Linked DNA regions of Homo sapiens: all the other regions are linked to region 3. Evidence: fine-mapped expression QTL. A gene starts in region 3. Each other region holds a variant in brackets. All regions are shown on one strand. Distances are from middle to middle. Region 1 overlaps GSAP (gamma-secretase activating protein). Region 2 overlaps GSAP (gamma-secretase activating protein). Region 3 holds the start of GSAP (gamma-secretase activating protein). Region 4 overlaps GSAP (gamma-secretase activating protein). Region 5 overlaps CCDC146 (coiled-coil domain containing 146).

What was found. PIP is the estimated chance that this variant, and not a neighbour inherited with it, causes the effect.
Region 1: its variant is fine-mapped to the expression of GSAP in whole blood (INTERVAL, PIP above 0.99).
Region 2: its variant is fine-mapped to the expression of GSAP in subcutaneous fat (GTEx, PIP above 0.99).
Region 4: its variant is fine-mapped to the expression of GSAP in whole blood (GTEx, PIP 0.96).
Region 5: its variant is fine-mapped to the expression of GSAP in whole blood (INTERVAL, PIP 0.91).

Annotation. Positions count from the first base shown.
Region 1 is chr7:77,312,774-77,317,880 of GRCh38, forward strand. It overlaps GSAP (gamma-secretase activating protein), which reads right to left. Exons shown (of 31, transcript NM_017439.4): 27 at 1,597-1,716; 28 at 715-776. Among named protein-coding and RNA genes, the nearest start is that of CCDC146-AS1, 67 kb to the left of the region's middle. RefSeq lists an enhancer at 3,319-3,820. The variant C/G (reference allele first, on the strand shown) is at 2,037.
Region 2 is chr7:77,383,808-77,388,914 of GRCh38, forward strand. GSAP (gamma-secretase activating protein) reads right to left here. Exons shown (of 31, transcript NM_017439.4): 6 at 3,553-3,641. Among named protein-coding and RNA genes, the nearest start is that of GSAP, 30 kb to the right of the region's middle. The variant T/C (reference allele first, on the strand shown) is at 2,574.
Region 3 is chr7:77,413,411-77,418,517 of GRCh38, forward strand. GSAP (gamma-secretase activating protein) reads right to left here and starts at 2,939. Exons shown (of 31, transcript NM_017439.4): 1 at 2,803-2,939. The coding sequence starts at 2,911. LOC101927243 (a long non-coding RNA gene) reads left to right here and starts at 1,788. Exons shown (of 5, transcript NR_110073.1): 1 at 1,788-1,938. RefSeq lists silencers at 2,105-2,394, 2,455-2,664, 2,885-3,234.
Region 4 is chr7:77,362,290-77,367,396 of GRCh38, forward strand. GSAP (gamma-secretase activating protein) reads right to left here. Exons shown (of 31, transcript NM_017439.4): 13 at 294-371. Among named protein-coding and RNA genes, the nearest start is that of GSAP, 52 kb to the right of the region's middle. The variant C/T (reference allele first, on the strand shown) is at 1,971.
Region 5 is chr7:77,294,883-77,299,989 of GRCh38, forward strand. It overlaps CCDC146 (coiled-coil domain containing 146), which reads left to right. Exons shown (of 19, transcript NM_020879.3): 19 at 1-322. Among named protein-coding and RNA genes, the nearest start is that of CCDC146-AS1, 49 kb to the left of the region's middle. The variant T/C (reference allele first, on the strand shown) is at 2,176.

The sequences.
Region 1 (5,107 bases), 100 kb before region 3:
GTTCGTGAGAGGACAGTGCCAGAGGTGCAAGTGTGCAAGGCATGTACACAGCAGATGGAGCTGGCTAAGGCTCTCCAGGTCAGGAAGTTTGCAGAGTTAGAGGCTCGGAAGACCTTGCTGTGGAATTTCATATTTTCATAGTATCTCTGACTCTAAGTGTTGATATTCCCTTGTGTTTCTCATTCTTCTTTTGACCTAGGAATGTCTTCCTACCATGTCATATTTTCATAGTATCTCTCACTCTAAGTGTTGATATTCCCTCATGTTTCTCATTCTTCCTTTGACCTAGGAATGTCTTCCTACCATGGTAGAAATGCAGTAAGGGGAAATACAGGTCTAGAACCTTCTGTCCTCACCTGTATTCCAATGTATCCAAGTTAAATCTGTTTAAATGCCAAAAGCACGTTTCCCCTTCTCCCTCCCTCTCAGACTCAGATGTAAATATTAGTGTGGTTTCCTAAGAGGCAAAAATGGCTTAATGTTCTCACTGGACTGTGCCAAGGCAGTGCAGAGCCAGAGAGCAAGTGCTTTGTAGGCCAAGTGGGAAACAGCTAACAGAGGGCTGGGGACGGGTGGGATTTCTTGGAAGTGTTGAAAAGTGAAACAATTCAATTGACTTTAACCCAAAGCAAGTAAATGCTCTTTTTGCAAGAAGAAATTGAAGGAGGGTAATGCCAAAGCTTAGGGAGAAAATAAAATGTAACTCAGTATTACCGGAGGAAGCCGCACAATGATACTGAATTTCAGTTTTTCATTTTTCTCTGTATTATCCAGATCTACAAGAAAGTTAGAGATTAGCAAATGAAACAAATACCCATTTTGATACTTTAGCAAGTTAATATTAATACTTGAGTGGTTCATCTTGATAGGACATATCCCAACTGTGTATTCTCAAGCTAATCTAACAGCATTTTGGAAATTTTACTCTGACTCTCTGAATAAAAAGGGATTTTTCTATAACAGGCTGCCAGGTACAAAGCAATTTTATTGACTAACTTAAAACAGAAGGTACCTTGAGGAATGACAAATGCTTTCATATAAACAAAAATCATCTTAAAATACAATTGAATAATTTGAGTGATTATACTACAGAATTTAAAGTTCAAATTCATTTAATTGCCCCTCTCAATAATTTTCCTTGCATTTCTAGTCTAACTTTGAGATGACAGAGTTAATCAGCTGAAAATAAGCCATTTCGTGACATTTTCTTGAGAAACAAGCCTGCAGAGGTTCCTAGCCTCAAGTGCCCTCTTGCACAGAAAAGGAATCTAATAGTTGTATGTGGATTGAAAAGTCCCTTAGGACCTCGTGAAGGGCTCAGAAACCTTAAATTGGCCCAAAAGATGATTACAGGGAATGGATTGTGCTCACAGGACCAGCTGTATAATTTGTGGGGCTCAGCACAAAATGAACACGAGCAAGCCCTCGTTCAAATACTACTAAGAATTTCAAGATGTAATGCAGCATTAAACTGAGCAGGGCACTCTTCTGAGTGCAGCCAGGCTCTTGGTGACTGCACAGGTTGCACACCCAAGAAGCTAGCCTTGGTGGTGCTCAGGCTGGAACTAGCACTCTGGCAAACTCAGGGCTTCTTACCTTTCATGAGCCTTATGACAGCTGTTTCAGTGAGAAGCAACACTCCACTGTCAATGCAATGCAGCAGGTTATGCAAAGGGAGACACTGGACCCCGAGGATGGTGTGCAGAGTATGAAAACCTAGGATGAGAGATCTGGAGGGTAAACACAGTCAGCCAACATCTCCAGCAGCCCCCGGGGAATGGATTAGATCATGTTAATAAAGCACTTAGTTCAGTGCTTGGTGCCTGGAACCAACTGAATTTCTTGAAAACAAGGTCCAAGTTTCCTTCTCTGTATTATTCGTAACTAAATATCACGCTGGGTCTATAGTAAGTTTCCGGTAAGTATACATTCCTTGCTCCTTGGGTCTCTTCCTGCACAGAAACAGAGCAAGGGCCTGCTCAATGGTTTTACGGTTTGATATGTTTGTGATTCTACAGTAAGATAGCAAAAGAGTA[C/G]AGAAGCATTTCAGATTTCGTATGTCCAGACTAAAAGGTTGTTGGGATGAGGACCATTTTGCTGAAGGGAAACAAATTTGGACCAGAAGGCAATAGTTTATATGGCTTATCTCTGGGTATGCCCTAGAGAAAGGCTTTTAGAGTCTACTTGGACTAAAGTATAGAAAAGAAAGAATTAAGACAATATGGCCAGATAGTAAATTTATAGGAATTCAATTGAGAGGCAGGCATTCTCAAGCCTGTCTCACGGGTAGAGCTACCCACAGAAACCCAGATCTCTAAGTATACTACTACTGACAACAGATAAAAACATCATGCATGGGAGAAGGTATCAGACCAGGAGAGAATCAAAACAGCTCTCTTGGAAGTGATGGCATTTGCGGGGAGCTTCAAAGGACAGATGCAATTCCTATCAGTGGAAATGAGTGCGGACAGTAGAAAAAGCCAGGTTTGGCATGAGCAGCCCTAGGCCAGAATCCAGCTGTATTACTCACCAGCTGCAGGCAACTAAGCCTTTCTGAGCCTCCATTTCTTCATCTCTAAATTGGAACCACCAGTACCTTTCCCACAGGGCTGCTTTGAGAACTAGAGCCAGGTCTGTGAAGAGCCTAGCATGCAATATAACAATAGCGACCCATACTGGACATGTACCAAGGCTTTCAACCTGTGTCCTGGCTCATCTGATCCTCATACAAAAGTATGGGGTGGGAATTACTAGATTCCCATTTCATAAATGGAAAAACCAAAAGCCAAGATTCACAGGAGCTAGGCAACTTGCCCAGGATCACAGAAATAATAATGTGTAAGTTGAAATTTGCATCAACTGTGTGATTGTAGGGTAGGCTTTCAACCATAATGTCACTGTTAATAACTGGCAGCTGTGTTAATAGAACATGAACAGAGGTCCGAAGATGAGAAAGCACAGGGCATATTCAGAAAATAGTAAATGATCCAGCTGGGTTGGAATCATATTAGAGGAGAGAAAGATTAAGAGGTAAGGTTGGAAAAGCTAATTTATTCAGCACATCCCTTCCACACACCTGGCAAGGGGCTAAGAGTATAAAAATGAGCAAAACAGGCACAACTGCTGCTCCCATACACCTTGCAGTCTGCTGGGGGAGGCAGACAATCAATTACAAAAAATAGACATTTTTAAAAATGTGACCAGTTCTGTGCTTATGAGTGCAGGTGACAGAGGTTGAATGCTGAATGATAGAGATTTATTAATTTGAGAGACTTTGAGGAGGTAATGAAAGTTTTTAAGCAGAACAGAAGATTTACCATTGGGATATTAATATGGCAACAGGCAAAGAATGAGTTGGAGTAATAATTTGCTACAGAAGGTATGAAGACCTGTAGAGAAGCTATTGCCTGAACGTGGATAAGAGGTAATGGAGGCACTGAATCAGAGAGGCATGGTAACATGTACAGGCTTTGCAACTCATTGAATGTGGGAATGACTGACAGAAGAATCATAGCCTACTCTTGGGAAGGTACCTGACAAAAGGATGATGCCCAACGAGCAGGGCTTGGATTCAGAGAAATCATGGGATTTTCTCTCTCTAAACACATGAATCACAAGCCATGGGGCACAGTCCTAAGTCCTTGTAACATCAAGGGTCAGATGAAGTACAGGCTCTGCCCACAAGCATGTGTTAATGGGCTAACAGGATGAGTCCACTAGCTTCCCTGAGTCCAAAAAAACTCCACTATTTTACTAGTTAATTAACAACAACGTTTTTCAAATGGATTTGGAAATTCTTCACAAAACTATTAGTAAAAAGTTACAAAATTATTTCTGAAGAAAAGTTTACACTAGATTATTGATGATATTGATTTTCTGGATTCAAATTTCCCTCTCCAGCCCTGTGTTCATATGCTAAAGGTCCCTGATGACCCTTCATCCTCTATCCCCAGGGCACAGTCCCAAGTTCAGGGACCTGTTCTTGGCCTCTATACATCAGCTCTGAGCAACAGAGCAAATTGGCTATAATTAGTCATCAGCTCCACCCAACTTTAATCCTCATCTTCCAGGGCTCCTGGCCTCCTCTAGCCAGCAAGTGCAATACAGTTCCTTTTTTTAAAAGCAAATGCCCTAGCTCTAAACCCTGACTTCCTTTTTGTGTTCCCCATTCTCTTCTTAACTTTAACCAATTCATGTTACAAGTCTCTGACAATCGTAACTCAAACAGTCATCATTAGTCCAATAGGCCTGGAAAGCAAGCACACTTACGCATGTGCATATAGAAACACCCTGAATTCATACAAGCATGCACATGCACACACACACATGATCCAGTGTCACCTCCCCCCTCTATTTCCATGTCACATGATGGAAATAAACATTCAAGAGAAAAGGAGAGAGCATGGAATACTATGCAGCCATAAAAGAGGATGAGTTCATGTCCTTTGCAGGGACATGGATGAAGCTTGAAACCATCATTCTCAGCAAACTATCCCAAGGACAGAAAACCAAACACCACACATTCTCACTCATAGGTGGGAATTGAACAATGAGAACACTTGGACAAGGGTTGGGGGGGAACATCACACACTGGGGCCTGTCGTGGGGTTGGGGGCTGGGGGAGGGATAGCATTAGGAGAAATACCTAATGTAAATGACGAGTTAATAGGTGCAGCAAACCAACATGGCACATGTATACCTATGTTACAAACCTGCACGTTGTGCACATGTACCCTAGAACTTAAAGTATAATTAAAAAAATGAGAAACACCTTTTCCTTACCTGACCCACAGACACAAGCCATAAGTCTACTTATAATAATTCTCGATCACTATGGATAACATCTTTGTTTTCCCTCCTTATCACTGTGAAGGAATGTGAGTTGGGTAGAAAGTGGATTTTTATGATCTCCAGGCGTAACAATGTCCCCAGTAAGTCAGTTTCATTTATTTTCAAAAGAAGCTTGAATATCTGTAATGAACAAATCTAAAACTGTCAATCCATTTCCCTACCAAATTTTTTGTGTTAACAACAAACAATTAAGAATTTAAGCCACAAAGGTAGTTTTCCTGTAATCCTTCAATCTTTCTAGGGTGTACCTCATAAC
Region 2 (5,107 bases), 30 kb before region 3:
CAACTTTTATGTCCCAATCTCCGAGTCATTAGTCTCACTAAACTTAGGACAATTTTTTATTATTTCCTAGTGTCCTACCTTTGCATAATATCAGATTAAAAATAGTACTAGTCAAATTTTGGAACATTTATAGTTGAGTTCCCTTTTAGAAATGAAAAGCAAAACATATGCTTCACAGCAATAAAGTCAAAATTATAAAATAGCAATGCAGAATTCAGCTACAAAAATAATACAGAACTAATTGTCTCATAATTTGTAAAATGTCACACATCAAACAAGATACTTTGTATACCAGAGTTGAGGAAAAGCAGAGATGAATGACACCACATATAGGATGGGAGAACAAATGTTCAGTGCCTCAAAATATGGAGATATCTGCTGCTATGGAAGATGGTATGGCCTCCCGGTCTACAGAGGTGGCCAGGGCATGCCTGCTTAGGAATGTGACATGGACTGAGGTGCTGAAGAGGTGTAACTGCCAACCTCTAAACCTCTGCCTGGTCTTCCTGTGACAATCAGGGAGAATGTTATTTTAAAAGTCCCGTTCAGGTAGGTGTTGTTTTTCTTTCTATTATAAGGTGGTCCTAGAGTAAGGCCTGGAAGCCAAAAGTAGACAGGATTCAGACACAGCTCTGCAAAAGCACTCAAGGTTATTTTTTTTGTATTGTAAGTAGGATTCTATGCAGATTATATTTACTTTGAAAAATTTATCTTCACAAATATGGAGCTAGACTTAGAATGAATATTGGTCTTTGGAGGTCTGTAGTCTCGGTGTGTAGAGGGTGTGTAATTACCCACTGGAACTATCTTGAAGACACACCTTGTGCTGGAAGGAAACACTCAAAGGGTCCCGGATTGGGATCCAAGCCCCACCTGCCACTCCTGCTGAAGCTCCTCTGTGTAGGTTGTCAAGACTACACATGCAGAGTTAGGGAAATGTGCTGCTGGAGATCACCATGGATGTTTTTGTAAGAAAAAGGAAATTGATCCCAGGGCAAGACCAACTCAATGGACAGTAGATGTCATTTCTCTAGAGGCAGGAGGGAGAAGGCGGGGATTTGCCACTGGGGTTTAGAGGAGTTTCTCTCTCCAGAGGCAGAGACATGGGGGCAGAAGGCAGGGCTAGGGACTAAGATGGGTCCACAGAATTAGTACAAGTTTTACTTTATTTGGGTTGGGACTTTTCCTTTGGCCTATAGATGCTGTCCTGTTCCATGTACTTCTAACTTTTTTTTTTTTTTTTTGAGATGGAGTTTCGCTCTGTTGCCCAGGCTGGAGTGCAATGGCACGATCTTGGCTCACTGCAACCTCTGCCTCCCAGGTTCAAGCAATTCTCCCACCTCAGCCACCCGAGTAGATGGGATTACAGTAGCATACCACCACGCCCAGCTAATTTTTATATTTTTAGTAGAGATGGGGTTTTGCCACGTTGGCCAGGCTGGTCTCAAACTCCTGAGCTCAGGCAATCTGCCCTCCTTGGCCTCCTAAAGTGCTAGGATTATAGGCATGAGCCACTGCGCCCAGCCACTTTTAACTTTTTAAAACTGAGTTCACATAACATAAAATTTACCATTTTAACCACTTTAATATATACAATTTTTGGTAGATTTTAATATATTCGCAATGTATACAACCACTTGCTTTTAAAAACTTTTCCCCTTTCTATGCTCCAATTCCCTTTAGTTACCCCAATCCTTCAGTCATGTCTCTACCATCTATATGGCCCTAACAAGATGCTAAGGAAGCCAAAGAACAGACCAGAAAAGAGAAGTGTGCTCTGTCCCCAGCCTCCCCACATTGATGACAGTGTAGACGGAGTAGCTTCCTGAGGGTAGGAGAATGCAGCTTGGGAGCTTCAGGCCAGGCCATATCTGGAATTGAGGAGCGACCACAGTGCTGTCAGGAGTGGCGGGGAAATGCGCAGCTGAAAGGACTGGCTGACAGGGGAGGACCCTGGGAAGAGAGAGACAACCCTCTCCCCTAACCCACTGGAATAGGGAGGCCCATAGGGTGGAGGCTGGTAATAGCTTGGGGGACAAAAAGGCAGATACTTTGAGTGGTGCAAATTGACTCTGGCTAGACCAAAAGAAATGATATTTTGACCCTGTAACAAAATGTGAAATTAGGCGAAAGGAAATTATGCTGTAGCACTGTGTGAACACACACAGTTCATTCAAATTATTTGCAGTAGTTATGTTCTGTAAAGTCACCACAAATGTCGTATACTGAATACTGAACCATTGTTTCTAGGGAAATACAAAGGGAGTTGATCATAATCCTGAAAGACACAATCCCAAATGCCATAATCCTAAATATTGAAATCCCAAAAGATCAAAATCCCAAAAATATAATTCTGGAAGAAAATAATTTTAAAAATTATTTAAAAGATGTATTGACATTTTTAAAAGAAGACTTATCTGAGAAGCAAAACACAAAAGAACACTTCATAGTCCACTTTATACAATAAAATAGGCAATAATAACATACACAGTTTTGAAAGTATAGACACTCGTGTATACTAACTATCCTGTGATCATGGCTTTTGGGACTGTAGACTTTTGACCTTTCAGGAT[T/C]TCAACATTCAGGATTATGGTGTTCAGGATTGTCTTTTGGGATTATGATCCAAACCCAAACAAGGATAAATTCTTGGAAGCCTCTAGTCACAGCATGTTTGTCAACAGATCAGTATATAATTTTGTTTTGTGTGTTTCTATTTAAAGACACTCCTTAACCTCATGGCCAACAGCATAGTAACTCATGCCTGAATGAAGCTTATCTGAAACACATGTTTTCTCCCTAAGGCATCTGACAGCCTTCTTGCACTTAGGAACACTAGACGGTGCCTCAGCGCTATTCCTGGAAGCCGTTTAAACTGTGAAATCGCCAGGAAAAAGCACAAAAATTGAAAGATGGAACTAGGCCATGAAAACAACTGTCATTTTAGTATGAGAGCTAAAGCAAAAAAGGCAGGGCATCACCGTGTTCAACCTCAATTGCGAATGTGCATGTTGGGTGACAAATTCTTTCACCACTCAGCATGTATCTGCAAATAACTGACGAAGTACTATAAGTGTTTAATTTAGGGGTTACAAATAAATTTTAGGAGCAGCAGAATATGCAAATATGGAATCTGCAAATAATGAGGAATGACTGTATCTATGCCACCTACATTATACATGCAGTTTCTGCATCAACTCATGAAGTTGATAAATTCAGGGATTAAGCCATTTAACCATAGATACTTAATCTGTCAACCATGCAAATACATTATATTGACCATTTTAAAGCTTACCTTAAATGTGTTTTAATATTTGATATTTTATCATGAGAAAATATTACATTACTAAGAAACAAACAGAGTTGGTGGAGCTAGCTTCGAGTTCTTAATTTCCATGCTTGCAAACAAAGAGCGGATACTTCCAGCCATAGTAGTCTACAAGACTGTTCTGAGGATTAAATATGATAGAGTGAAAGTACTTTGTAAACCCCAATTCTTCTAGGCTGCATGCCTTTTGATTAATGAGATAAGTGATAAATGGCATGCTTACTTACCTGAACCCAAATATAGCTATCCACAGCCTTTAGAACCTTCACATTGTTAACAGGGTGGATTTCAACCAACAAAGTCAAGCACTTTGATCCTACAGAGAAAAGAAGGCTTTTAGTAACGAAGATTGTAATATCACACATTATTTTTTCCAAAGCAAGGAGTAAGAACAATTTCCGGTAAATCCTACTACAGTGACTATAAACTAATAAAACAATTCTACCACCATCCTAGAGTCCTGTGAGGAGACTGAAACTGTAAATCTGTTCCCAGTTCTACTCTCTAGGATGTGTAGCGGCTCCAGGACCCCAAAAGAGCAATCAGCCCAGCAAAGGACCTGCCTTCCACACCCTCAGGAGCCCTGAAGAAGCTGCATTTTATTATGAAAACCACAGGATACTCAAGAAATGCAAATGTGAAAAGGGAAGTCTTTGAACAGCCCTGGAAACAACAGTAGATACAAGGGAGACAAATTTCAGATTATAAGAATTCTGCATTTACAGAAAAGCATCACATTTAAAACACAAGTGGCTTCTGAATTCAAAGATCACTGTATATTACTTTGCACTCTCACCAGCAACATATAAGAGGGCCTAACGGGTTTCTAATGGATATCATTTTTCCCAATTATCACAATTCTATGATTTGCAAAAGCAGACATGTCTGAACTTTCTGAAAATATAAATATGCTAACTATTGTATTAGCTATTCTACCAGGGGGAAAAAAAGGTGATTTTCTTAAAGTTTGACTTTAAAGTTTGACTTTGACATTTCTACAAATTCAACAGAGACACAGAAAAGATCTCAAGGGAGAAATCAATGTGCACGGAGTGAAGAAGTTGTTTGTACTCACTCCATGCCATTTTTAGCATAGCTCCACAAGCCCTCTAGGCTTTTAAGTCTAAACAAACACAGTGCGATTCTCTGTCACTCCAATTCGGCAGCACAATGGCAAATATTGTTTGTGTAGGAAAATAAAAAGATTTCTGATACATGAACATGTTAAGGCTGACAGTATCTATCATTAGGACACAGGCTGGGTTTCCCTCAGGGACAGTGGTATAGCACTGATAATGACCCACTTACTTCTTCAGTGTCACATCTGAGCAAATGCCATAAAATACAGCAATCAGGAGGAAGTCCATGGACACAGGCTTCCCCGCATGGAGTTACCAAAGATATCTAAATTTAGGTCAAGGTTCCCCTTCCCCCAAGATTACACCGTAGAAAAGAAGGACTGGCCTTATATTTGAGCTTTTATTGAGACTCTAATATGATCCAGTGTCTCTCAGTGACTTCACTGTGAAAAATAATATACAAAATTTGGGGATGGCACAGAAGCGTGGAATTTAATCAGTGTTAGTTTTCAATATTTAAGAAAGCAACCTGAGAGCACTGCTTTATTTTTTGAAAAAAGCAAAGAACGTAAAACAATTTCTGAGCTATGTCCTAACAACTGGAAGGTCTGGATCTATCTATAAACATGCCTTTTAAATATTACTTGAAAAAGACAGTAAGTGAGTTATTATATTGAATCATATAATATACATACTACAGAAC
Region 3 (5,107 bases):
TGCCTGCTGACTATACTCACAGCACCTGGGACAAGCTGTTCTTTGAAAGGAAAATCTAAGGGGTGCATCTCCATGTCCACCATCGTGTTGAATTCACACTATGGAACACTATATAGCATTAATTAATACAAATTAATAACCTGCAGCTAGCCAGTCAATATGGGTAAATCTCACAATATTGAGAAGGAAAATAAGCAAAAGGAATGCATACAGTATGTTTAAAGTTCACAGGCAAGCAAAATGAAATATTTTGCCCATACATATAGGCTAAAACTACAAATAAAGTCAAAGTAATGTTAAAATATAAAAATGTAAATGGTTGCCAACCTAGGAGGTGAGGATGAGAGAAAGAAATAGAATCAGAAAGGAGCACATAAGAGACTTCAAGAGTCTTGACATTGCTCTGTTTTTAAGCTGGGTAGTGGATACACGGTTTTACTTCGGTGGTTTTTTTCTTTCTTTTATCATTTACAGCTACCTGTTAAAATATTCTTTTATGTAGTTGTTTTGATTTTTAACAAATATCTTCTTTTATTTCAGGAGAAACTGTTTTCTCAAAAGTTCAACCCAGAACCAGGAGCAAATGCAGTAACCAAATCTGTTCTCCTTCCTCCTTGACCCCTTATTGACCAAAATGCTTACAGGCACAGAATTTCCATGGCTGACTCAGCCCAGCTCTCTGTTTTGCCAGGAATATATCATACATATCTCATGAGAATTACTTAGCACCTCTAAGAAAACTTCAATTGTATTTGTTGATGTAAAAACATTAAGGCTTCAAATTCAGAAAGCAAGTATGCATAGAGGAGGCATTACAATGGTATAGTAATTCATAATTTACATTTGAAAAGCCAGAACTTTGAAAGGATAATGATTTCCACAAATGTGTGTTGTAACTGCTGTGCTAGAAATGAGACAGAATCCCAGATTTCCCTGCCACTGCTATAAATTACAGAACAGGAATTAATTTGTGTGGGGGTATTTTTGAGCTACCACCCACTGGTGATTATCAGAGGTGATAATTCTCTTAGTATAACAGGGCTAATATCTTACCAAGATATTTGCTCTGAAAGAGCAAAATACTACCAGTATCAGAAAAGCTAGTATTTCCAGAAAGTACCTTCTGAGGACCTAGAGCTATCTGTTGTTTAGTGGAAGGTCAATACACAAGTTTATATTTCTTCAGAGATGAGCGAAAGATACAAGGAAGCCAGGTCCCAGTGGGTCACACACAGCTTTTCAAGCACGACACACATTACGGAAACATAAGACTGTGGCATTTCACACTCATCTAACTTCTCATTTGCAGACACCTGCCATTTAGCAAAATAAAGTGGGAGTCCAGAAAAAGGAGTACTTGGTAGTAGAAGACAGAGCTGCCTGTTGTATTTCAAAAAGTTAAGCCTTCAAAAACTTTTCAGACATGTGGGCGACTTTTTTTTTTTTTTTTTTTTTTTTTTTTTTTGAGACGGAGACTTACTCTGTTGCCCAGGCTGGAGTGCAGTGGCGAGATCTCGGCTCACTGCAACCTCTGCCTCCCAGGTTCAAGCGATTCTCCTGCCTCAGCCTCCCGAGTAGCTGGGATTACAGGAGCGTGTCACCACGCCCAGCTAATTTTTGTATAAAATTCTTCCTTGACCACCCTCTCCACCTCGAAAAAAAGTAAAGCCTTACTAAGCATGACACTAATGCAAACTCAATGCATACGCTACACAAACATATAACTCCTTATTTGGAGCTAATAATATTCCAAGCCAAGGAAACCTACAAATAATTTCGCTATAGTCATAGGAGAGTGTGAAGATACAAGATAGCAACTTGATATATAACTCACATCAAGAAAACTTTCACCAGCGTTTAAGGGAAAGGAGTTGTAGATGTGGGTCATTTAATACCCACTTCCAAATTCACTGAAGTGGACAGCGCCCTACACACAAGGTGAGACCTACAGGCATCATTGCTTTGAAGCTGCATTTAAGCTCTGAAGCTCCAATATTTATAGAAGACTTTTAAAACTTTGTAAGAAATCACAAAGTTCCCCTTCTTTAAAACAGATCAGTGCTGGGAAGGCTCAAAAGTCACTTTCACTCCCTTACCAAATCATCAAAAAGCCCGGAGTGGCAGGGCCGGGAGCCGAGCATCTCGCGCGCAGCCCCAGCCTGCACAGGTGCGGAGCTCGGGGGCGGCTGGGGGCTCTCGCCCCGCCGCGCGCAGCCTGGAGGCGGCCCCTGCCCTCTTGCGCCTCACCGCCGAGGCCCATGTCCCCTGAGCCACGGACACGGTTCAACAGACACATAAACACGTCTCGCAAATGTGGGGACAAACTGTTCCACCGTTAGGTATAGGGTGGTTTGCTTGGTGGTCACGGATTCTTTCTCAAAACGTGAAGCTTCCAGGAGCACTCCTGTCTTGGCAAAGCCCCTGCGCTGCCGATGAACCCCCCGGGAGGTGGGATGCGGCCGCTGAGCTGAGCACGACCCTCTGCCCTCGCCGTGAGGTGATGCTGAGGGAACCGCCAGCGGCCCGGCCCCTCTGCCAAGGGCGAATTTCCGCGGGCCGGCAGCGAGCCAGGCGCCTCAGGCCCCACGGCGACCTGGCCCGGGCTCTGCCCCCAGACCTTCCGCCGTGGCTGGGTGTGGGTGGCAAAGCCAAAACAGCCCTCTGAGGAGGGGAGCGACGCCCTCGCACCAGCCTTCTCAGGGCGGCGACGCCCCGGGTTGCTCCCCACCGGGTCGGAGTCCGGGGGGTATGAGGGACTCCCACTCCCCGCCCCCACCCCTCTCCGCAGCGCGCCTCCCGCACCTGCGCCGCCGCTTCCGGCCCCGCTGGCCTCCGACACTGCCCGCTGCGCCCGCAACCACGGGAGCACGTCCTTCCCGAGGTCGAAGTCGGCGACCAGGCGAAGAGCCATCGCCCGGACACGACCACCGGGCGGCTCTGGGGCCCCGCACCGCGGGCATTCCCGGCCCCGCGTGGCCGCCTCGCCCTCGCGTCCCCGCTCCCGCCCCCTCTTTCCTCTCCCCCGCCCCCTGCTGCTTTCGGTTCTGCAGCGCCCTGGCCTGAGAAGCTCCGGCACCAGCTCCTCCCGGCCGGCGGCCCGCACCTGAGCCGGAGCCGGAGCCGGGCACGGCGGGTAGCGGTGGGGCGGGGTGGACCAGGCGCCAGGACCAGGCCCGCCGGGGCGGGAGGCCTCCGCGCGCACCTTCGGGGCTGAGGATAGAGGGCGCAAAGACGTGGGCGCTTCAGGGCCTTGGCGAGGCCGCTAGCCCAGTGGCTTCCAAACCTGGAGGGTCGGCCTATTTTCTTTATTCTACAAGTGCCTCCACTGTGCAGCAAAGTGTGGAAACCACTTGGCTTGAGAGAGCTGGGTCCTCTGGAGCAGTTCAGGGTCACCACAGAAGTAGGCCGTCTCTTGGGCCTATTCGCCCCAGCTTCGAGGTGGTGGTGCTTTATTAGTGTTATTAAGGTAATGAGTAGCAACTGGGAGCGTATGACGAAGGTGATCCCATTGTAAGAGAAACGCTAAAAGGGGTTAATGCGCTTGATACAAACAGCGTCCTTTTTGCCTTTTAACTCTAGTACATCTCATTTGATGCCTTGAGACATGAAAACTGAATCTTAAGTCTCCACGCAAACCCTCTGCCTCCCACCAGGGTCTAACAGAGCACTCTGGAAGGTGCTCGACAATTACTGAAGAATGAGTGAATACAGTAATAAAGAATGCTTTTTCACATGCTTCCGAAATTAAGGTCTGAAAACTACTTGTATTGACGTCATCTGGGGCACTATTTTACAATGCAGACTCCTGATCTCTACACCTGGACAAGACCAGAAACGTGCATTTTACCCAGAGCCTCGGGTGATTCTTAGGCTTACTAAGTTTGAAAACTACTCCAACCAAATGTAAAAGAAAGTCTTGAATTTTTTTCCCTCCTAGAGACATGTTTCTCCAACTGAGGTAATGGATGATTTCAGGTAGAACTCCATTACTCACCACCATATACAGAGGAAAGTCCTCCCACCCGGGAAGTGCATGCAAATTTAAGATAAATGCCTAATGAAGCTGCTAATATTATCAGTGAATAAAAGGAAGGCCACTGGAGCCCCCAAGGAGCTAATGCAACTATTTCATATCAAATAAGCTTGTTGCCTTTGTCATACAGAAACACTGTTGGCCAATTTTTTAAAGTCAGTACATTTCCATTGTTTTTATTTTTGCAGTTAACTTCTATTTTTGCCAGGCAGGACTGATTTTATAGTCAAGCAGTGATGATATAAAAAATTCTCTTCAAATTAAGTGAAAAAGCCAATGTAAAGAAGGTGAGAAACAATAAGATAATGATAGAAAGATGTGGCCAAAATCATGAGGGTGCTATATGAAGGCATGTGTATCAGTTAGGATTAGATTCTCCAGAAGTTAATAAGAACTCAGATTAACAGTAAATTAAACACACAAGTTTTATTCTGTCACCTAGCTGGACGTAGGCAGAATAAAGCTCTTAGGGCAGGTTCCTGAATTTATCAGGGACCCAGGCTCCTTCCAGTTCTTTGCTCCACCTGATCCTGAGTGTACCCTTGTCCTCATGATCAAAGAGGGCTGCAGAAGCTTCAGCCTTCACGTCTGCATTCCAGAAATCAGAATGGAAGAAGAGGAATAAAAAGAGGATGCTACCTCTCTTTTAAGGATACTTCCCGGAAGTTCTACACAACATTTCTACGTATGTTTCACTCACCAGAATTTAGTCACATGGCCAAATGTAGCTTTCAAGGGAGGCAAGGAAATATACCTGGCCATTGCTGTGCCCAGATAAAAATCAGGACGGTATTACTGAAGAAGGTGGGGAAAGTAGATATTCAGAAGCAATTAGAGATCTCTGTCAGAGTATGATACCCGATTCCGGCCACTGAGTTGTAAGGAAACCTCTGCTATGACAGATTTCTCTATTCTTAAAACAAGAGACATGGGAAAAGATGGTCCCTTTCAGTCTTTAACTATTTCGGGATCTAGATATGATTGCTGGAATTTCAGCCATCTAGCACACTGAAAATGGAGTCATTGGAGTCAGGAGAGTCCAGAGAACTGCAGAGAAGAGAAACCTTGGTAAAT
Region 4 (5,107 bases), 51 kb before region 3:
CACCCTGGGCAACATGGTGAAACCCCATCTCCACAAAAAATACAAAAATTAGCTAGGCATGATGGCACACGCCTGTAGTCCCAGCTACTTGGTGGGCTGAGGAGGGAGGATCACTTGAGACCATAAGGTTGAGGCTTCAGTGAGCAGTATTCATGCCACCGCATTCCAGCCTGGGTGACAAAGGGAGACCCTGTCTCCAAAAAATTACTAATAACACTGTTAAGAGCTATCTAATTTGCTACTATTTGGAAAAAGTTATTATGTAAAAGTAACAAAGAAGACATGAAAAGTACCTTTATGAATGTAAAACACTGAATATGTGATTTGTCCCCAAGAGGCACACTTCGGGCTGTAACATACACACAAACTTCCTAGAAGAAAAAGGATATTTAGTAGAGTTTAACAGAATCTATGTCATAAATAAAGTTTCCTAAACCACTTAAACTTACTTCTATTCCTTTAGATGTCCTGTCTCATCTTACCTCATAGATTATTCCCAAGTCCTAGAAGTGGTCTATTAACAAGTTGCTAAGAAATTTCAAAGCAGTAATTTTTTAGTGCACACTATATAGCAACATATTGTGGCAGGCTATTGAAGGATAGGAAAATGAACACAGATATACTCCTGCATATGAAATAATGGGGTTCTAGACAGTTTCCAAAGCTTCATGAGATTCTCCTAGTAAGCATGCATTGTCCTCCCTTATCTAGCTTGTCACCTTGCAATTATTACTAACAGCTGTGAACACCAGTTTATCAAAAATGTGTTCATTTCACAGAAAGTTACCAGTCTCTAGTTTATCTTGATTGAAAGGCAAAGTGTGATCTATCTTATGGGTCAGTGAAAACAAATGTGGCATGTGAGTCCATATCCATCCGTAACTGAGTCACTGAAGGCATTGGCCCAAGGCCAAAGGAGAGCTCTTGGCATAGAGTGGCCTTTCCAGGTGAGTCTTGACCCCCTTCACTTACCCCATCACTCCAGAACACCCTCAACTTTCCCCACCTCTCTCAACGCATGAAACTGTACATTATCTCTAGCAGCTGCTGCTGTATGGACTAATGTCCATCAGTGACCTACATACAATTGAGGACAGTATGCTTAAACAGGTATGTCTATCATTTATGTGATTAACTGAAATAGGAGATTGACAGGTAGAAAGTAACTTGACAAGGAGTCAGGAAACCTGAGTTCTAGCCCCAGAGCTAACGTTAACTAGCTGTGTGAATTCAATCGCTACTCTACTTCAGTGGATTTCAATGTTTCCTCTACTTTCCTTCATTAGTTTCTTTATCAAAGAATCGTGGTAGAAAAAAAGTCAGTTTCCCCTAAGAGGGCTATTCAAGGACATTTATAAGTATTCTGTTATAATATTTATCAATTATGACTTTTTAATGACATTTAACACTGCAAAGTATTGTCAGCAGTACATTTTATTGCAATTATCTTAAACACAAAATAGCAAAAAAGAATAACTTCATCAGATAACATGGTAACAATTCTATTAGATGTAAAATGACTGTTACGGTTACTGAGCACACAATAACAACTTTTCTTTACAATTACAGCTGACTCATGACTCACTGAGAATAAAAGTAATCTATCACTAAAGTATAAACAAAATAATAATTATAAGAGTTACAAAAGTCTCATATACCACTTGGACTGCTTTCATACAGTAAACATTATCAGCAAAAAACTACTTGTTTATCCATTCTTTTATATACTATAATCACAAGGAACATGAAATTGCTTAAAAAAAAGACTTTAGATTCTCTAGTAATAAATAAAAATTAAAACAAGGTACCATAATTTTCCTTTAGAAGTAGTTTTTTAAATGATAATGAAATACTGTCAAGGGAGCATGTGCTTCTTACACAATTCTCAAATAGTAGTGAATGAGTCAACTAACACAATATCTCAGAAAAATTCTTTCACAGAGGGTTAAATATATTCATACCTGTTCACC[C/T]AGTAATTCTTTTAGGATTCTATCCTGGGAAATGAACATGATGGCAACATAGATCATAACCTCCATTCTAGCAAACTATCTGCACTCCATCCTTTAGAGAATGAAAGTTTTTCTCATTTTGAAAAAAAGTAAGATGTACATTCTCAGTAAACTATCACAAGAACAAAAAACCAAACACCGCATATTCTCACTCATAGGTGGAAACTGAACAATGAGAACACATGGACACAGGAAGGGGAACATCACACTCTGGGGACTGTAGTGGGGTGGGGGGAGGGGGGAGGGATAGCATTAGGAGATATACCTAATGCTAAATGACAAGTTAATGGGTGCAGCACACCAGCATGGCACATTTATACACATGTAACTAACCTGCACATTGTGCACATGTACCCTAAAACTTAAAGTGTAATAATAAAATAAAATGAGATGTAGAATAAATGTACCTAATTACATATTCTAAGAACCATATCCAGAACTTATAAGCAAATATTTCCAAATTGTTAGGTCATGCTTAGTTGCCCCACCCAATCCCAAAGGGAAAAAAAGACACAGCAAGTTGAAATGGTATGTACACAGGCTCTGTGAAGCTATCCAACAGAACTGTCTTTGACAATGGAAATGTTATATACCTGTATAGTCCAATATGGTGGCAACTAGCCACATGTAGTCACTGAACACTCAAAATGTGGATAATATGACTGAAGCACTATTTATCTGAGACAAAGTCTCACTCTGTTGCCCAGGCTGGAGTGCAGTGGTGCAAACATGGCTCACTGTAGCCTTAACCTCCCAGGCTCAAACAATCCTCCCACTTCAGCCTTCCAAATAGCTAGGACTACATGTGTGCCTGGCTAATTATTTTATTTTTTTTAAGAGATGGAGTCTATGTTACCCAGGGTGGTCTTGAACTCCCTGGGCTCATGTGATCTTCCTACTTTGGCCTCCCAAAGAGCTGGGACTACAGGAATTTTTTTTAACTTCTATTTTCAGTTCAGGGGTACATGTGAAGGTTTGTTATATAGGTAAACTCATATCACAGGGGTTTATTTTTACAGATAATTTCATCACCCAGCTATTAAGCCTGGTACTCAATAGTTACTTTTTCTGCTCCGCTCCCTCCTCCCACCCTCCACTCTCAAGAAGACCCCAGTGTCTGTTGTTCCCTTGTGTTCAGGAGTTCTCATCATTTAGCTCCTACCTGTAAGTGAGAACACTAGGTATTTCGTTTTACTGTTCCTGCGTTAGTTTGCTAAGGATAATAGCCTCTATCTCCATCCATGTTCCCACAAAAGACATGATCTCATTCTTTTTTATAGCTGCACAGTATTCCACGGTATGTATGTACCACATTTTCTTTATCCAATCTGTCACTGATGGGCATTTAGGTTGATTCCATGTCTTTGCTAACATGAATCACGCTGCAATTGACATTTGCATACGTATATCTTTATGGTAGAATGATTTTTATTCCTCTAAGTATATACCCAGTAATCAGATTGCTGGGTCCAATAGTAGTTCTGCTGTTAGCCTTTGAGTAATCACCATACTGCTTTCCACAATGGTAGAACTAACTTACACTCTCATCAACAGTGTATAAGTCTTCCCTTTTCTCTGCAACCTTGCCAGCAACTGTGGGTTTTTTTTTTTTTTTTTTTTTTTTACTTTTAATAATAGCCATTCTGACTGGTATGAGATGGTATCTCATTGTAACCTCTATCTGCATTTCTCTAATCCTCAGTGATACTGAGTTTTTCACATGCTTGCTGGCCACATGTCTTCTTTTGTAAAGTATCTGTTCATGTCCTTTGCCCACTTTTTAATGGAGTTGTTTTTGTCTTATAAATTTAAGTACCTTGTAGATGCTGGATACTAGGCCTTTGTCAGATGCATAGTTTGCAAATATTTTCTCCCAATTCTGTAGGTCGTTTGGTTTACTCTGTTAGTTTCTTTTGCTGTGCAGAAGCTCTTAAGTTTAATTCGATCCCATTTGTCAATTTTTGCTTCTTTTGTGATTACTTTTGATGTCTTTGTTATGAAATATTTGCCCATTCCTATGACTAGGATGGTATTGCCTACGTTTTCTTTCAGAATTTTTATAAATTTTGGGTTTTACATTTAAGTCTTTAATGCATCTTGAGTTGATTTTTGTCTATGTTGTAAGGAAGGGTTCCAGTTTCAATTTCTATATATGGCTAGCCAGTTATCCCAACACCATTTATTGAGTAGGGAGTCTTTTCCCCATTGCTTTTGTCAGCTTTGCTGAAGATCAGGTAGTCATAGGTGTGCAGCCTTATTTCTGGGTTCGCTATTCCATTCTATTGGTCTATGTGCCTGTTTTGGTAACAGTACCATACTGTTTTGGTTACTGTAGCCCTGTAGTATAGTTTGAAGTTGGGTAACATGATATCTCCAGCTTTGTTCTTTTTGCTTAGGTGTACCTTGGCTACTCAGGCTTTTTTGGTTCCATATGAATTTTAAGACAGTTTTTTCTAGTTCTGTGAAGAATATTGATAGTTTGATAGGAATAGCATTGAATCTGTACACTGCTTTGGGCAGTATGGTCATTTTAATGATATTGATTCTTCCTATCCATGAGCATGTTTTTCCATTTCTTTGTAACTTCTGATTTCTTTGAGCAGTGTTTTGTAATTCTCATTGTAGACATCTTTAACTTCCCCTCCCTGGTTAGCTGTATTCCTAGGTATTTTATTCTTTCTGTGGCAATTGTGAATGGGATTGCCTTTCTGATTTGGCTCTTGACTTTGCTCTTGTTGGTGTAAAGAAATGCTAGAGATTTCTGTACATTGATTTTGTATCCTGAAAGTTTGCTGAAGTTGTTTATCAGTTGAAGGAGCTTTTGGGCTGAGACTATGGGGTTTTCTACAGAATCATGCCGTATGCAAACAGGGATAGCCTGACTTCCTCTCTTCCTATTTGGGATGCTCTCTTGCCTGATTGCTCTAGCTATGACTTCCAATACCATGTTGGATAGGAGTGGTGAGAGAGGACATCCTTGTCCTGTGCCAGTTTTCAAGGGAAATGCTACCAGCTTTTGCCCATTCAGTATGATGTTGGCTATGGGTTTGTCATAGATGGCTATTATTTTGAGGTTTTCCTTCAATACCTAGTTTATT
Region 5 (5,107 bases), 120 kb before region 3:
AGGCCTCTCAAGGAAAAGACTTCAACCAGGCTTCCTTGTACCCACAGGTGAAAAATGTGAGCATAATACTTCTAATATTATTGATAAGTAAGGTAACCACAATTAGTCAGCAACAGAGTACAACAGGGTTTCTATTTACCCACCAACTACTATACCTTTCATGACGTTGAATGGGACATAGAACTGTCCTACATTTATGTCAAAGTATATATTTGAATCGCTTATATTTTCTTTTTCACTCTTTATATTGAGTACATTCCAGAAATTTGTAGTAGGCAAGGTGCTATAAAAATGCACTAAAAATAAATCTGTTCTCAATGAAGTACGGAAATGGACACAGTGGTCTTTGTTTATTAAAGAAAAAACAAATACTGTTCAATATACACACTTTAAAAAGAAAGAATGGCTATTTGAAAAGGAAAATACCTCAAGTATTGCAAAGGCATAACTCACTTTGTTGAATAAGAAGTAGCACTTAATCTTGGTAAATCTAAATTACATAAAGTAGTGAAGCTTGTCATGGCTTTTTGCATTTTTTTCATTTTATTTTTTTGACAAATAATAATTGTACCTACTCATGGGGTACATACTGAAGTTTCAATACATATAATGTATAGTGATCAGATCAGGGTAATTAGCATATACATTCAAACTTTATCATTTCATTGTGTTGGGAATATTCAATATCCTCCTAGCTATTTGAAACTGTATATTGTTACCTATAGTCATCCTACAGTGGTATAGGACATAGGACTTATTCCACCTATTTCACTGTAATTTTGTGTCTATTAACAAATCTACCCCATTCCTTCCTTTCCTCATCCTTTCCCTTAACCTTCCCAGCCTCTTATATCCGCTGTTCTACTTTTAGCTTCCACATGAGTGAGAACAATTTTTAGCTTCCACACATGAGTGAGAACATGTGGTGTTTAACTTTCTGTACCTGGCTTATTTCAATGAACATAACATCCTCCAGTTCCTTTCATGTTGCCACAAATGACAGGATTTTGTTCTTTTTTGTGGCTAAATAATATTCCGTTGTGTATGTGCATATGTATGTGCATATGTGTGTGTGTGTGTGTAGCTCCCATTTTCTTTATCCACTTATCTGTTGTTGGACAGACACCTAGGCTGATTTCATGTCTTGCCTATTGTGAATAGCACTGCAGTAAACATGGGGGTGCAGATGTCTCTTCAATATTCTGATTTCCTTTCCTCTGGATAAATTTCCAGTAGGGAGATTGTTGGATCATATGTTCGTTCTATTTGTAGTTTTCTGAGGAACTTCCATATCATTCTTCATAGTGACTGCACTAGTTTACATTCTCACCAACAGTGTATATAAGAGCTCCCTTTTCTCTGCATCCTTACCAGCATTTGTTATTTTTTAACTTTTTGGTAATAGCTATTGTAATTGGGGTGGGATGATACCTCATCATGTTTTTTTAATTGCTATTTCCCTGATGATTAGTGATGTTGAGCATTTCTTCATATACCTGTTGGCCATTTGTATGTCTTTTGAGAAATGTCTGTTCAGATCATTTGCCCATTTTTAAGTCAGATTGTTGTTTTTGTAGTGTTTTTTGATGTTAAGATATTTGAGTCCCTTATTTATTCTGAATATGAATCCCCTATTGGATGAGTAGTGTGCAACTATTTTCTTTGATTCTGTAGGTTGTCTTCACTCTGTTGTTTCCTTTGCTGTGCAGAAGGTTTTTAGTTTGATGTAATCTCATTTGTTTATTTTTGCTTTTGTTGCCTGTGTTTTGAGGTCTTATTCATAAAATATTTTCTCAGGCCAATGTCCTGAAGCATTTCTCCTATGTTTTCTTCCAGTAGTTTTATGGTTTGGGGTGCTATATTTAGGTCTTTGATCATTTTGAGTTGATTTTTAAATAGGGTGAGTAGTAGGGAACTAGTTTCATTCTTCTGCATATGGACCTCCAGTTTCCCCAACACCATTTATTGTAGAGACTGTCCTTTTCCCAATAAGTATTCTTGGAACCTTTGTCAAAAATCAGTTGTCTATAGATATATGGATGAATTTCTTGATTCTCTATTTTGTTCCATTGGTCTATGTATCTGTTTTTATCCCAGTGTCATGCTGTTTTGGTTACTAGAGCTTTGTAGTATATTTAAGATGTGGTAGTGTGATACCTCCAGCTTTGTTCATTT[T/C]GTTCAGGATTGCTTTGGCTATTTGGGGTCTTTTGTGGTTACATACAAATTTTAAGATTGTTTTTTCCTATTTTTCTGAAGAATGCCATTAGTATTTTGATAGTGACTACAATCAATCTGTTGATTGCTTTGGGTAGTATTGTCATTTTGTTTTGTTTTATCTATTTTATTTTATTTTATTTTATTTATTTTGGGAGACAGAGTCTCACTCTATCACCCAGGCTGGAGTGCAGTGACATGATCTCAGCTCACTGCAGCCTCCACCTCCAGGGCTCAAGTGATCCTCCCACCTCAGCCTCCTGAGTAGCTGGGACTACAGGTACACACCACCACACCCAGCTAATATTTTTATTTTTTGTAGAGATGGAGTCTCACTAGGTGACCTAGGCTGCTCTCAAACTCCTGGCCTCACGCAATCCTCCTGCCTCAGCCTCCAAAAAGTGCTAGGATTATAAGTATGAGCCACCACATCCAGCCAGAATGGCTATTATTAAAAAGTCACACACACAATAAAGATGTTGGTAAGGTTGCAGGAAAAAGGGAATGCTTAACACTGCTGGTGGGAATGTAAAATTAGTTCAACCACTTTGGAAAGAACTAAAAACAGAACTACCATTTAACCCAGCAATCCCATTACTGGGTATATACCCAAGGAAAATAAATTGTTCTACCAAAAGGACATGTGCACTTGTACATTCATCAAAGCACTATTCACAATAGCAAAGACATGGAATCAACCTAGATGCCCATTAACACTGGACTGGATAAAGAAAATGTGATACATATACACCATGGAATACAGCCATAAAAAGGAACAAAATCACATTCTTTGCAGCAACATGGATGCAGTTGGAGGCCACTGACCTAAGCAAGTCTGAAGCAGAAAACCAAATACTACATGTTCTCACTTAAATGGGGGAGCTAAACAATGAGTACACATGGATATAAAGATGGAAACGACAGACTATTGGGGAGAAGGTGGGGGGAGAGTTGAAAAACTATCTGTTGGGTACTATGCCCACTACCTGGATGATGGGATCATTTGTACCTCAAACTTCAGCATTACATGATTTACCCATGTAAGAAAAAATCTTCTTTAAAGGTTCAGTAGAATTCAGCAATGATGCCATCTGGATTTTTCTTTGTTGGAAGACTATTTTATTTTATATATTTTATTTTATTAATTTATTGTTTTGAGACAGAGTCTCGCTCTGTCACCCAGACTGTAGTGCAGTGGCCAAATCTTGGCTTACTGTAACCTCTGCCTCCCAGGTTCAAGTGATTCTCCTGCCTCAGCCTCCCAAGTAGCTGGGATTATAAGCATGCACTACCATGCCTGGCTAATTTTTGGAATTTTTAGTAGAGATGGGGTTTTGCCAGGCTGGTCTCAAACTCCTGGCCCTGAGTGATCCACCTGCCTTGGCCTCCCAAGGTGCTGGGATTACAGGTGTGGAAGACGTTTTATTACTCATTTAATCTAATTGCTTGGTATTGATCTGTTCAGGTTTTCTATTTCTTCCCAATTCAACCTTGGTAGATTGTATATGTCAAGGAGTTTATTCACTTCCTCTAGGTTTTCTAACTTGACATATAGTACAAAGCACCCTGGAATTATTTTTTGTATCTGTTGTGACATACCCTTTTTTGCTTCTGATTTCATTTATTTGGGTCTTCTCTCTTTTTTCCTTAGTCTAGCTAATGGTTTGTTGAATGTGTTTATTCTTTCAGAAAACCAACTTTTTGTTTTGTTGATCTTTTGTATTTTTTTACTCTCAATTTCATTTATTTCTGCTCTAATCTTTATTATTTCTCTCTTCCTACAATTTTGACTTTGATTTGTTCTTGATTTTCTAGTTGCTTGAGGTATATCATTAGGTTATTTGAAATCTTTCTAGTTTTTTCATGTTAAGTATTTGTTGCTATAAACTTGCTTCTCACTACTGCTTTTGCTGTGTCCCATACGTTTTGGCATGTTGTGTTTCCATTTTCGTTTGTTCCAAAGAATTTTTAAATTTCTTCCTTAATTTCTTTCTTCTTCATTTTGGTCATTCAGGAGCATGTTGTTTAATTTCCATGTATTTGTATAGTTTCAAATGTTCTCATTATTTATGTCTAGTTTTATTCCATTATGGTCAGATATTTGATATGATTTTGATTTAAAAAATAAATTTGGATGCCAGGCAAGGTGGCTCACACCTATAATCCCAGCACTTTGGGAGGCCGAGGCAGGCGGATCACTTGAGGTCAGGAGTTTGAGACAAGCCTGGCCAACATGGTGAAACCCGGTCTCTACTAAAAATATGAAAATTAGCTGGCCATGGTGGCGCATGCCTGTAGTTTCAGCTACTTGGGAGGTTGAGGCAGGAGAATGGCTTGAACCCAGGTGACAGAGGTTGCAGTGAGCCAAGATCGCACCGTTGCACTTCAGCCTGGGCAACAGAGTGAGACTCCATCTCAAAAAAGTGTCTTCATCTCAAAAAAAGTCTCTTTTTGAGACTTGTTTTATTTCTAACCTATGGTCAGTCCTGAAGAATGTTTCATGTGCTGATGAAAAGAATGTGTATCCTGTATTTCACCTGTTGGGTGAAATGTTCTGTAAATGTCTGTTAGGTCCATTTGGTCCATGATATGGTTTAAATCCAGTTTTTCTTTGTTGATTTTCTATATAGATTATCTGTTCAGCACTGAGAATGAGGTGTTGAAATCTCCAACTATTATTGTATTGGGGTCTATCACTCCTTTTAGCTCTTAATATTTTCTTTATATATCTGAGTGCTCTGGTGGTGGGTGCATATATATTTATAATTGTTCTATTGCTGAATTGATCCCTTTATTAGTATATAATGGTCTTCTCTGTCTCTTTTTACAGCTTTTGACTTGAAGTTTGTCTTGTCTCATATAAGTATAGCTACTCCTGCTCACTTTTGGTTTT